Linked DNA regions of Homo sapiens. The protein of the gene in region 2 interacts with the protein of the main gene of each other region in a pairwise test. Each region holds a gene or a part of one and is shown on either strand. Other genes may lie near its edges.

Region 1 (3,509 bases), on a different chromosome or scaffold from region 2:
GCACGGAGCGGGAGCGCATGGGCCTCCTGGCCGACCTTCCTGTGCCGCCCAGTGAAGGCGGGCGTCCCCGCAGGGTGGGGCCTGACCTCTCCCGCCGCATCTGCCTCTTCCTGACCACAGCCAACCCTGATCTCCTGCTGGACCTGGGCTCCTGACCACACGTGGGACCACCAGGACAGCATGCAGCCTTGGGGACAGACCAGACACCCTGGGCGGTGGGGGAGGACCCCCAGCCACATGTGGACCCTCAGCCTGGGTGGGTTCTCTGGCTGAGCAGGTCTGACCTCAGGGGAAGGGTGGGTGGTTGCAGGGGAAGTTTTAGGTAGCTGGGAGAAGAGGGGCTTCTGGCTGGCAGATGGCTGGCGGTTCCTGTGCTGAGTCCTGAACACGTAGGCCCCAGGGGAGGCCTCAGCAGCAGGGCTGTGCCCCCCCAACACACACACACACTCGGCAGGGACCAGAAGGCAGCTCCAGGGCCCCACTGCCACCTGGAGGCTTGGGGTGTGGCACCCTCAGCCAGAAGCAGTAGGGGACTCCCAAGGATGTGGAGGGGCAGTGAGGCCTGGGAGAAGGCCCAGGCTGCTCGCAAGCCCGGCCTCTGCACGGATACGTTTCAGCTCACGCCATGTGGGTGTTAGACATCAACTCTACATTTATTGCAGTCCTTTAAGTCTATGACGGCGGGGCAGCCGCTGACAGCATGCAGAGCAAGTTAGGAAAAACCGAGGCCCTGTGGGAACAGCAACGCGGGCTCCAGCCAGGCTCTCGTCCTCGCAGCCTCCCACAAGACCTGGGGCTCAGGGCAGCCGCTTCCCCACCCAGCACAGCAGCAGAGGGGCCCTAGAGCCCCCACAGAAAGGACTGTCCCAGCCTCGGGAGCAAGAGATGGCTCCCTCCGGACGGGCCTCATCCAACTCCGCCCTGGAGTGTGGCTGGAAGGAAGGGACAGAGAAAGAAGGGACAGAGGAAAGGGGCTGTCCCAGCCCAAGAAGGCAGTTCCACTGGGAAGTCAGTCAGGTCCGGCGGCAGCGCTTCCTCTGGCAGGGCCGAGGCTCGCGACTGCTGGGGTGGGCGGAGGTCGCTGCCTGGGGATCGGACACTGGAGCCTTGCGGCGGCTGCAACTCATGCTCAGGACCCAGCCCAGCTTGTTGTGTAGCACCTGCTTGAGGCCCGGCGGCAGCGGCAGACCCTCCAGCGTGTCTCCCGAGTCTGGCCGCAGCTGGCGCAGGCGGTGGCAGCACAGGTACTGGAGGGAAGTGGCGCTGGCACAGGAGCGGGTGACCTTCATGCTGCTCCGGGCCGCCGTGGAGCACACCATCGGGTAGAATCTCTTGTTCTGCAGCTTGGTGGCTGCCACACCTGGAAGGGAGGGGCCCAGCCTGAACCCCAGGCAGGGAAGGGGCCAGCTACTGGGCGCAGCCCCTCAGACCTCACGCTACAGTCACCCGGGTGGGCAGCTGGCACAGCTGAGGCAAGGCAGGGTGCACGCGCTGGCCCTGCCACTCCAGCCTGGCCTCACTGTCCCACCCCCTGGGACCCTGGGGCCTCAGGCTTCTGGGAGGAACCCTTTCAGAAAACCTCAGTGTCCCCTGGGCTGGGGCGGGGTGGCTGCCTCCCTCGGGGTGACAGCTGAGAGGAGCTCAAGTCCTGTGACGGCCTCACCTATACACTTCCTGTTCTTGAAAAAGGTGAGTGTGCCGTGCCAGGTGTCCAGGTGCACGCCAATGATGGAGCCCTGGCCGAACCGCGATGAGAAGCTGGTCTTGTCGCCCTTGTGGTGGAGGAGGCCTGGGGGCAGCCAGGGTCGCAGTGAGCCCGGGAGCTCCAGGCTCGGCCCCGCCCCACCCTGGGCCTCACGCACCCGTGTAGGAGAGGCCCCAGCTGTCCTCATCCCTGCCCAGCAGGCTGCAGAACGTGTGGCGGTATTTGTCCAGGTCCACATCCGACGTCCCGATGCCCACCATCTAGGAACAGGGGCCAGGCAGAGGGCGCGGGGCTGGGCTGCCGGAGCCAGGTTCCCCAGAAGCACCCTGGGCCGAAGCAACTTACCATGTCGGTGCCGTAGACGGGAGAGGTCATCTTGATCTCCCAGAAGTGCTGGCCCTCCCCCAGCTCCTTGGTGCCCCGGATGGCCGCTGTGCCGCAGCTGTACTCCATGTGGAAGCTGACCTTACGGTTGTCACAGCTCAGCAGGGTGGCTGATGACTTATTTAAGTCATCCCAGACCCAGTCGAAATCTGCAAGAGAGGCCCAGGCTGGGGCAGCCCTGAGAGCTCCATGGGGCTCTGCCCTGCCCACCCCCAGGCCCGCCCGCAGTGCAGTCCCAGCAGGGGCTGGGCCCCACGCTCACACTCGTCTTCCTCTCCGCAGCGGCAGTCCCTGCCCCGGTGGGCCGAGTGCAGGCTGCTACAGAAGGAGGCCTCGCTCTGCCCAGCACAGTCACAGAAGGACTCGCCGGTCACGGGCACCGCACTGGGGATGGATGGCGGCAGCGTGGAGTACTCGGGGTCGGAGTCCGAGTCGCTGTGCTGGGAGAGAAGGGCCGGCTGTTACTACCTGTTGCCCGCTCTCTACCCTCTCACCCTTGCCCTCTGTCCCTGTCCCACCCTGTCCCTGACCCACCCAGGAAAGGATGGGGGTCCAGGCCTCCAGGGACTTCACAGTACCCCGAGCGCACAGCCCAGGCTCCCTCCCAACGGGCTCCGGCTCTGCCCCATTCTGCATGACCAGGAGGGCCCTGGAGGCCCAGCCACAGAGCAGTAGCCAAGGCTGCCTGGCCTCCAAGTGGTTTCTAGACGGTGGATAAGCCCCAGGTCCACCCCACCTGCCCAGAGCTGAGATGGTGTGGACACCTTCCCTGCTAGGCCAGCCCTGCAGGGGCCCCCAGGCAAGGCCACCACCCCCACACCAGGCCCAGCTGCAGCCACCCGGCCTCAGGGCAGTCCCCACCACACTGTGGCCCAACGACCTTCCTGTTACCTGAGCAGACCTGGCTCACCACAGGGTCCTACTGCCCAGTGCCCACTACAGGCCCCGCCCCTCCTGGTGCAGGTTTCAGCTGTCACCTCCCTGAGGCTTCTCCAGCCCCTTCACCCCTGTTCCATTTTTCTTCTTTTGCTTCACTGAAGTTCTCCTTGGTCCTGATTCTTGGCCTCCTCCCACCAGAACGTGAGCTCCTTGTGGGAGGCAGTGCCCCTCCCAGCCTCCTCCCTGTCACAGACTGTGTGGGGGCCACCCAGGGGCTGAATGGACCAGGGGGTCAGCAGGGAGAGTGCTAAGTGGTGGCGGGGGGCCTGTGGCAGAGGCCTTGTGACAGTGAGGGTTGAGGGCTGGTCCAGAGAGATGATGTGATCCCCAGGAGAAGCCACAGGGGACCATGACATGGGCGCCACCAGCTTCCAGGTGAACGTGGACCTATCGAAAGCCAGCTTCAGGGCAGGACACTGTCCTTTCTGGAGGGGATGGCCCCACCCCACAGACAAGGCAGGCCCAGACAACTCTACCCCAC
Region 2 (3,649 bases):
CAGCGCCCTACACACACCCTCGTTTCCCGAGGGGCACCATTATATTCTTCCTTTATTGGCTGTCCTTGTATAATACAAATCTTCAAGTTTAGATACAAAAAAAATCTGGAAATAAAAGATAGAAAAGTACCCGCCAGGCACCCCTTCCCCTTCTTCCCGGACCCCTCCCCAGCGGGCACCGACATGAGGTAACTGCGCATCTTCTCCTCCTCCTCCCTCCCCGCCTCCTGGGCCCCCAACTTGGCCCTAGCCCCCATGAGACCTTGGCCCAAGGAAGACATGGGCCCCAAAGTTGGAGGGTGATGGAGGTGAGTACAGCATTGGCAGTGAACGCAGCGTGTGGGCAGAGGGCAGCCCTTAGCTTGTGCTGTGCATGGGGGGAGGAGACGACCAGATTTGGGGTGGGCACTGGTGTGGGGCCCAGGAGAGCCCCTAAGCAAGTGTCCCCCCTCCATCCTGTCCAACACTGGAAGGTGGGGGTCAACAGAAACTGGGAAATGGAGTGTGAACCAAGGGCATTCAGTGGGATTGTGGCCAACCCCTGTGTCTGGGGTTGGGGAAGGGGGCATTGCCAGCCTAAGTCCGGCAGTGAAATGGTTCCCTTAGCCAGGCTGGGTCCGTCCCTGAATTCCATCCTGTTGCAACCTGGGCGTCACAATGTTGGTTCTGTAGTGGTTGTCGGGGTGGTTGAGGGAGGGGGGTGTTGAGAGGGTGTTGAGGGGCGCAGCCCCAGGGAGCAGGGTTAGGGGAGAGGTTGTGCCTCCACCCCCAGGCGTGGGGCACCTGGAGATGATGGAGTGGGTGGGGCGGCTCGGGCTACAGTTCAATCTCGAATGTCTTTTGCAGGTCGCCAGAAAAGGGGTTGGAGGGTTTCTCTACAGTGGCTTTGCCTTCTAATGCCGCCCACTGGGCCTCAAAGGGGTCCAACTCTGGAGCTGGGGCAGGCGCTGGCTCAGGGGGCCAGGGGGCCCCATTGGGGCGAGGGCGGGCCTGGCTCCCAGGGGCACTGGGTATGGCAGGGGGCGGGAAGGCCCCAGCTTTCCCAAGCAGAGTGGCAGGCTGAGGCTGGAGCTGGGCGGCTGAGCAGAAGGCGTTTGCCACCATCTGTGAGGGTGTGATGCCCACCACGGGCACCCGGGGCATCGGTGGGTAGCCCAAGCCCGGGTAGGCGGGCACAAAAGGGGGCTGCATGTGTGGGGGTGGCAGGAACACGGCCACTTGGGCAGGTGCAGCGTCAAAGGGCCCCACGGGGGCGGGGAAAGGCTGCAGGGCAGGAGGCATGGTGGGCACTGGGGCCACTGAGGCTGCTTGCTGCTGTTGCTGCTGCTGCTGCTGCTGCTGTTGCTGTTGCTGCTGCTGCTGCTGCTGGGCCTTGGCCACCTGTGACACCTCCTCCAGCCATCGCTCAGCCTCTGAAGGTGTCCGCTTGTGCCCAGGCTGGAAGGCAGCTGCAGGGGGCACGGAGGGCTCACCCCAGGCAGAAGTCCCTGGAGAGAGGAGAGGGACAGGTGAGGGAGGGGGCAACGGCTTCAGCAGAAGAACCCCAGGCTGGGAACTGGCATGGTGTGGGGATCAGAGCACGGACTCTGGAGCCAGACCGCCTGCCTCTGAATCCCAGCTCTGCACCTCCCGAGCTTGCTGACTTCAGGCGAGTGACTTCACCATTCTGGACCACGTAATGGTTCTGGAGTGCTAAGAACATACAATTCTGAGCTTCTAAGGCCCTATGATGAGAAAGTCTAAGTAGGACTGACATCCTCCTAGCCCCACTACCCTTCTGACTGGTCAGTGCCAAGCCTAGGATTCACTATTTTGTTTTGTTTGTTGTCTGTTCGTTTTGAGAGTCTCACTCTGTTGCCCAGGGATGCCCTATCTGGGCTCACTGCAACCTCTGCCTCCCAGGTTCAAGCAATTCTCGTGCCTCAGTCTCCTGAGTAGCTGGGATTACAGGCGCGCACCATTACGCCCGGCTGATTTTTTGTATTTTTAGTAGAGGCGAGGTTTCAACATGTTGCCCAGGCTGGACTCGAACTCCTACCTCAAGTAATCCCCCTGCCTCGGCTTCCCAAAGTACTAGGATTACAGGCATGAGCCACCACACCCAGCTGGTATTCACTATTTTGAATATCACCCTTGATTTTCTAATACCTTCAGAATGTATTGTTTTAGGAGTTAAGATTCTAAGATTGCATGGATCTTTCTCCACATGTATAATAGTATCCTAACATAGTAAGGTTTGACAGTTTAGGGTTGGGCTTTCTAAGATTCTCGAGTTCTACATTTACAGTGTTTGAGATTCTAAGGTGCACCTGTGGTTCTAGGATAAGCCCATGGCTCTAAGATGATACATGGTTCTCAAGGATTCCATGGTTCTGAAACGATCTCTGGGCTCTAAGGTGATCCCAAGATTCTAGCATGAGCACATGCCTCTGAGGTGACCCCGTGGCTCTACAATGATCCCGTATCTCTAAGATAATTCATGGTTCTAAAGTGATCACTTGATTCTCAGGTAATCCCACGGCTCTAAGATGATCCTTGGTTCTAGGATGATCCTCTGGTTCTAAGATGATCTGTGTTTCTAAGGTGATCCTATGGCTCTAAGATGATCCATAGTTCTAGGATGATCCCATGGTTCTAAGGGGATCCCGTGGCTCTAAAATGATCAAGGGCTCTGAGATGATCCATGGCTCTAAGGTGATCACATGATTCTCAGATAATTCCATGGCTCTAAGATGATCCATGGTTCTAGGATAATCCCCTGGCTCTAAGATGATCCCTGGGTCTAAGGTGATCACATGATTCTTAGGTAATCCCATGGCTCTAAGATGAACCACGGATCTAGGATGATCCCCTGGCTCTAAGATGATCCATGGCTCTAAGATGATCACACGATTCTCAGATAATCCCATGGTTCTAGGCTGATCCCCTGGCTCTAAGATGATCCCTGCTTTTAAGGTGATTGCATGATTCTCAGGTAATCCCGTGGCTCTAAGATGATCCATGGATCTAGGATGATCCCCTGGCTCTAAGATGATCCATGGTTCTAAAGTAATCGCATGATTCTCAGGTAATCCCATGGCTCTAAGATGATCCATGGTTGTAGGATGATCCCCTGGCTCTGAGGTGATCCATGGTTCTAAGCCTGTAGGATCCCAAGACCCCTGGAGTGTCTGGGTAGCCCTGGATAGAGGAGGGGATACAGGAGGGACATGCAGGGTGTCTGCCCAGCAGAAAGCCTGGCTTTACCTGTTGTGGCAGGTGGTGGCCCTGGTGCTGGCGCTCCAGCACTGGCAAAAGATGAACTGATCTGTGTGCACAGAGCGTTGATGCTGTCACTGTCGCCGGCACCAGGAGGCTCCATCTCAGGCACTGGGAAGCAGGGCAGGACAGAGGTCAGCAAACAGGCCCAGACCCTGCCGCAGCCCCGCCCTCTACCCCCCGCCCTCGGTGGCCCTCTCTTCTGACCTGGATCCTTTCCCACTGTAGTAACTAAGTGGCCATGACCGCCAAATAACTGTGCATATGTGTGTGTCACATCTGAGCGGCAGAACGACTGAGTTAGTGTGTGACATTTGACGGCTGACAGTAACAGGGACCCCAAACCAAGGACCTCAAGATTTGTGTGTGGCCACAAACCAGAAGAGTTGTC
Region 3 (3,649 bases), on a different chromosome or scaffold from region 2:
TTTATTGTTTTTCCCATTCCTTGCTAGGATTTAACTACAGAAAGACAGATAGTAACTGCTCTAAATATTCTAATTTCCTTTATTTTTTTGAGATAAGGTGTCGCTCTGTTGCCCTGGCTGGAGTGCAGTGGCGTGATCATAGCTCACTGTAGCCCCCAACTCCTGGCTGGGGCTCAAACAGTCCTCCTGCCTCAGCCTCCCAAGTAGCTGGGACTACAGGCACGCACCACCTCACCTCGCTAACATTTTGTTTTGGGAGATAGGGTCTTACTCTTTTGCCCAGCCTGGTCTTGGAACTACTGGGCTCAAGCAGTCCTCCCAACTTGGCCTACCAAACTGGTAGGATTACAGGGGTAATCCCCCTCAACTGACATAAATATTCTAATTTTCAAATTTCCATATAATAGTATGGAGAGATGAAAACAAAAGGAAAAGAGTAGAAGATAGGAACCTAGCATCATACTAGTAAGTGTGCAATGGAAAAGAACATAGGTCTAAGACTCATAAGGTCTGGATACTGTTCAGAACCAGCTGATTCTGTGGTCCTATGCAGTGTGTTTAATCTGCAGTTGAGCTTGGGCTAAATGACCTCTAAGATCCTTTTGTCAGCTTTACTAAAATACGAAACAAATTAGGTTTTATAGGGGGTTCTAGAACTTAGCATTGTATAAATGCCAAGCACTAATAAGTATTTTCTAGAAGCTGGTCTTAAATAAGTTGAATGAGTAATTAGTTGAGCAGGGTTCTAGTACAGCATTAACATTAAATGTATGTGAAATTGTATCTCACTTCAGTTTACCAAAACACTGATAAATGGTATGCCTGCTTTTTAGGCAAGTTTCTGACAGGTAATCAATAATATTGAAACAGTATCCATGAAGTCTTTAAGTTGATCAACGCATGGCTAAAAGGAAAACCAAGTTTTTAAGAAAACTTTTTCACACTAATAGCTGAATTTTGTGAAAGAAAAAGTGGGTAGTCGTAAGAGTGTAGGCTTTATGCCTTACCTGGCTAGGAGCAAAGCTAAGAGAACCGGTGGAGCACAGCCAGACATAAAAGCTGTGTTCCAAAGAAAGAATATAGGAAAAATATAACTTTTTATTAACTCAAAATTTTAAACAAAATTTTCAAACTAGAGCTCACAGAGATTCATAAATAGGTTTCAAGGATTTTGTGAAATCATATCAAAAGTTGTGTTTTTCTAGATTGAGGCTTTATAGCAGTTATTCAGAATCTATAAAGGGATGTATAACACAACTCTACAGATAATATGTTACCAGCTTTCCCATTCAGTGACTTAGCAGCTTCATAAACTCTCAACATCAAACCACACTATATCCTTACACCGAGCTTCCCCAGCCACAGGCCACATGGGGCCAAACACAAATTCGTAAACTTTCTTAACACATGATGAGATTTTTTTTTAAGCTCATCAGCTATCATTAGTGTTGGTGTATTTTATGTGTGGCCCAGGGAAGCCAAATGATTGGACATCCCTGCCTTAGACTGAAATGTCTGTGGTGATAAAATTTCACTGCATTAGGATGACGACATAGTAAAAATTCAAGCATTAATTATTACCTGAAGCTTCTCTATTTCCGTCTTTGCAGCTTGCCTGGCTTTGCCGATGGCACAGCCCCAATAACCCTATTTAGAAAAAAATATATATAATCACTGAATTAGTACACTATCATATGTAATTAATGACTACTAATGTTTCTATAACCTAGTGAAAGGATGCTAAATGACTTTTAAAAGCAAGTATAGAAAAATATAGTCAAACACATTCTGATGAATGCCAAAGGGCTCAAAAATACTAAAATACCAAACAATTCCAAAACAACCTGTATTTTTAATAAAGGTATATCCAAAAATATGTAAATTATGTAATCATATACACTTTAAGACATTTTGGGGAACAGGAACGGAAAAGATTTTAGCACTATGACAATGAAAAATGAAATTATATATTCCTGAGAGACAGAAATAAAGTTAATTCCTATGAGTTCAGTACTCTAAACCCCCAATTTTATTATTTTGTAAATTTTTTTAAAGATAAGGATGCACAGCTGGGTGTGGTGGGTCATGCCTGTAATCCCAGCACTATGGAAGGCCAAGGTGGGCAGATCACCTCAGGTCAGGAGTTGGAGACCGGCCTGGCCAACATTGTAAAACCCTGTCTCTACTAAAAATACAAAAAAATTAGCTAGGTGTGGTGGCAGGTGCCTGTAATGCCAGCTACTCCAGAGGCTGAGGCAGGAGAATCGCTTGAATCTGGGAGGCAGAGGTTGCAGTGAGCTGAGACCGCGCCACTGCACTCCAGCCTGGGCAACAGAGTGAGACTCCATCAAAAAAAAAAAAAAAAAGGATGTACACATATATACTTCTGTTACAGCAAAATATATTTAAGAATCTTCATTTTCTTCAATTAGTAAAAACGACAAAAATGTAAGGATAAGAAAACAGTTAAGAAACGGTAACAGGCCGGGTGCAGTGGCTCACACAAAGTGCTTGTAATCCCAGCACTTTGGGAATCTGAGGCACGTGGATCACTTGAGGCCAGGAGTTCCAGACCAGCCTGGGCAACATGGTGAAAGTCTGTCTCTACTAAAAATACAAAAATTAGCCAGGTGTGATGGTACAGGCCTGTAATCCCAGCTACTTGAGAGGCTGAGGCACAAGAATCCCTTGAATCCGGGAGGCAGAGGTTACAGTGAGCCAAGATTGCACCACTGCAGTCCAGCCTGGGCAACTGAGCAAGACTCTGTCTCAAAAAAAAAAAAAAATGGTAATAATTTAGGGAAAGCTCTTAGAAATCACATTTAAACCTTCTCTTTAAAAGGGAAGGCAGGGCAAGGTGGCTCACACCTATAATCCCAGCATTTTGGGAGACCAAGGTGGGCGGATTACTTGAGATCAGGAGTTCGAGACCAGCCTGGCTAACATGGTGAAACCTCGTCTCTACTGAAAATACAAAAATTAGCCGGGTGTGGTGATGCATGCTTCTAATCCCAGCCTACTCGGGAGGCTGAGGCAGAATTGCTTGAACTGGGGAGGTGGAGGTTTGGCGCCACTGCACTCCAGTCTGGGTGACAGAGCGAGACGCTGTCTGAAACAAAATTAGGTCCGGCACTGTGGCTCACGCCTGTAATCCTTGCACTTTGGCAGGCCGGGGTGGGCAGACCACCTGAGGTCAGGAGTTGGAGACCAGCTGGCCAACATGGCAAAACCCCATCTGTACTAAAAATACAAAAATTAACCAGGCATGGTAGTACATGCCTGTAATCCCAGCTAATCAGGAGGCTGAGACAGGAGAATTGCTTGAACCTAGGAGGCGGAAGAGGTTGCAGTGAACCAAGATCGAGCCACTGCACTCCAGCCTGGGAGACAGAGTGACACTCCATCTTATAAATAAATAAAATAAAAGGGATGACATGGCTGGACATCGATGCTCACGCCTGTAGTCCCAGCATTTTGGGAGTCCAAGGCAGGAGGACTGCTTAAGGCCAGGAGTTTGAGACCAGCCCTGGGAACGTGGAAAGACCTTGTCTCTATAGACACCAAAAAAATACAAAAATTAGCTAGGCATGGTGGCATGAGCCTGTAGTCCCAGCTACTTGGGAGGCTTAGGTAGGAGGATCGCCTGAGC

Evidence for each region.
Region 1: the proteins of NUMBL (region 2) and SPSB3 interact in binary tests that used the Homo sapiens proteins (3 or more experiments, as listed by UniProt).
Region 3: the proteins of NUMBL (region 2) and PSMA3 interact in a two-hybrid assay, tested with the Homo sapiens proteins (one large-scale study listed by BioGRID and IntAct).

The regions. Positions count from the first base shown.
Region 1 is NC_000016.10:1,776,084-1,779,592, forward strand, and holds the end of SPSB3 (SPRY domain-containing SOCS box protein 3), read right to left. Parts: exon of another isoform or gene 2,530-3,509; coding exon 2,352-2,529; coding exon of another isoform or gene 2,239-2,351; coding exon 2,051-2,238; exon of another isoform or gene 1,966-2,050; coding exon 1,863-1,965; exon of another isoform or gene 1,790-1,862; coding exon 1,664-1,789; exon of another isoform or gene 1,361-1,663; coding exon 1,014-1,360; 3' UTR 629-1,013; downstream 1-628. Other genes in the region: structure-specific endonuclease subunit EME2, read left to right, coding at 1-155.
Region 2 is NC_000019.10:40,666,652-40,670,300, forward strand, and holds part of NUMBL (numb-like protein), read right to left. Parts: intron 3,370-3,649; coding exon 3,247-3,369; intron 1,488-3,246; coding exon 817-1,487; 3' UTR 1-816. UniProt on the Homo sapiens protein: Plays a role in the process of neurogenesis. Required throughout embryonic neurogenesis to maintain neural progenitor cells, also called radial glial cells (RGCs), by allowing their daughter cells to choose progenitor over neuronal cell fate.
Region 3 is NC_000014.9:58,261,703-58,265,351, reverse strand, and holds part of PSMA3 (proteasome subunit alpha type-3), read right to left. Parts: intron 1,648-3,649; coding exon 1,582-1,647; intron 1-1,581. UniProt on the Homo sapiens protein: Component of the 20S core proteasome complex involved in the proteolytic degradation of most intracellular proteins. This complex plays numerous essential roles within the cell by associating with different regulatory particles.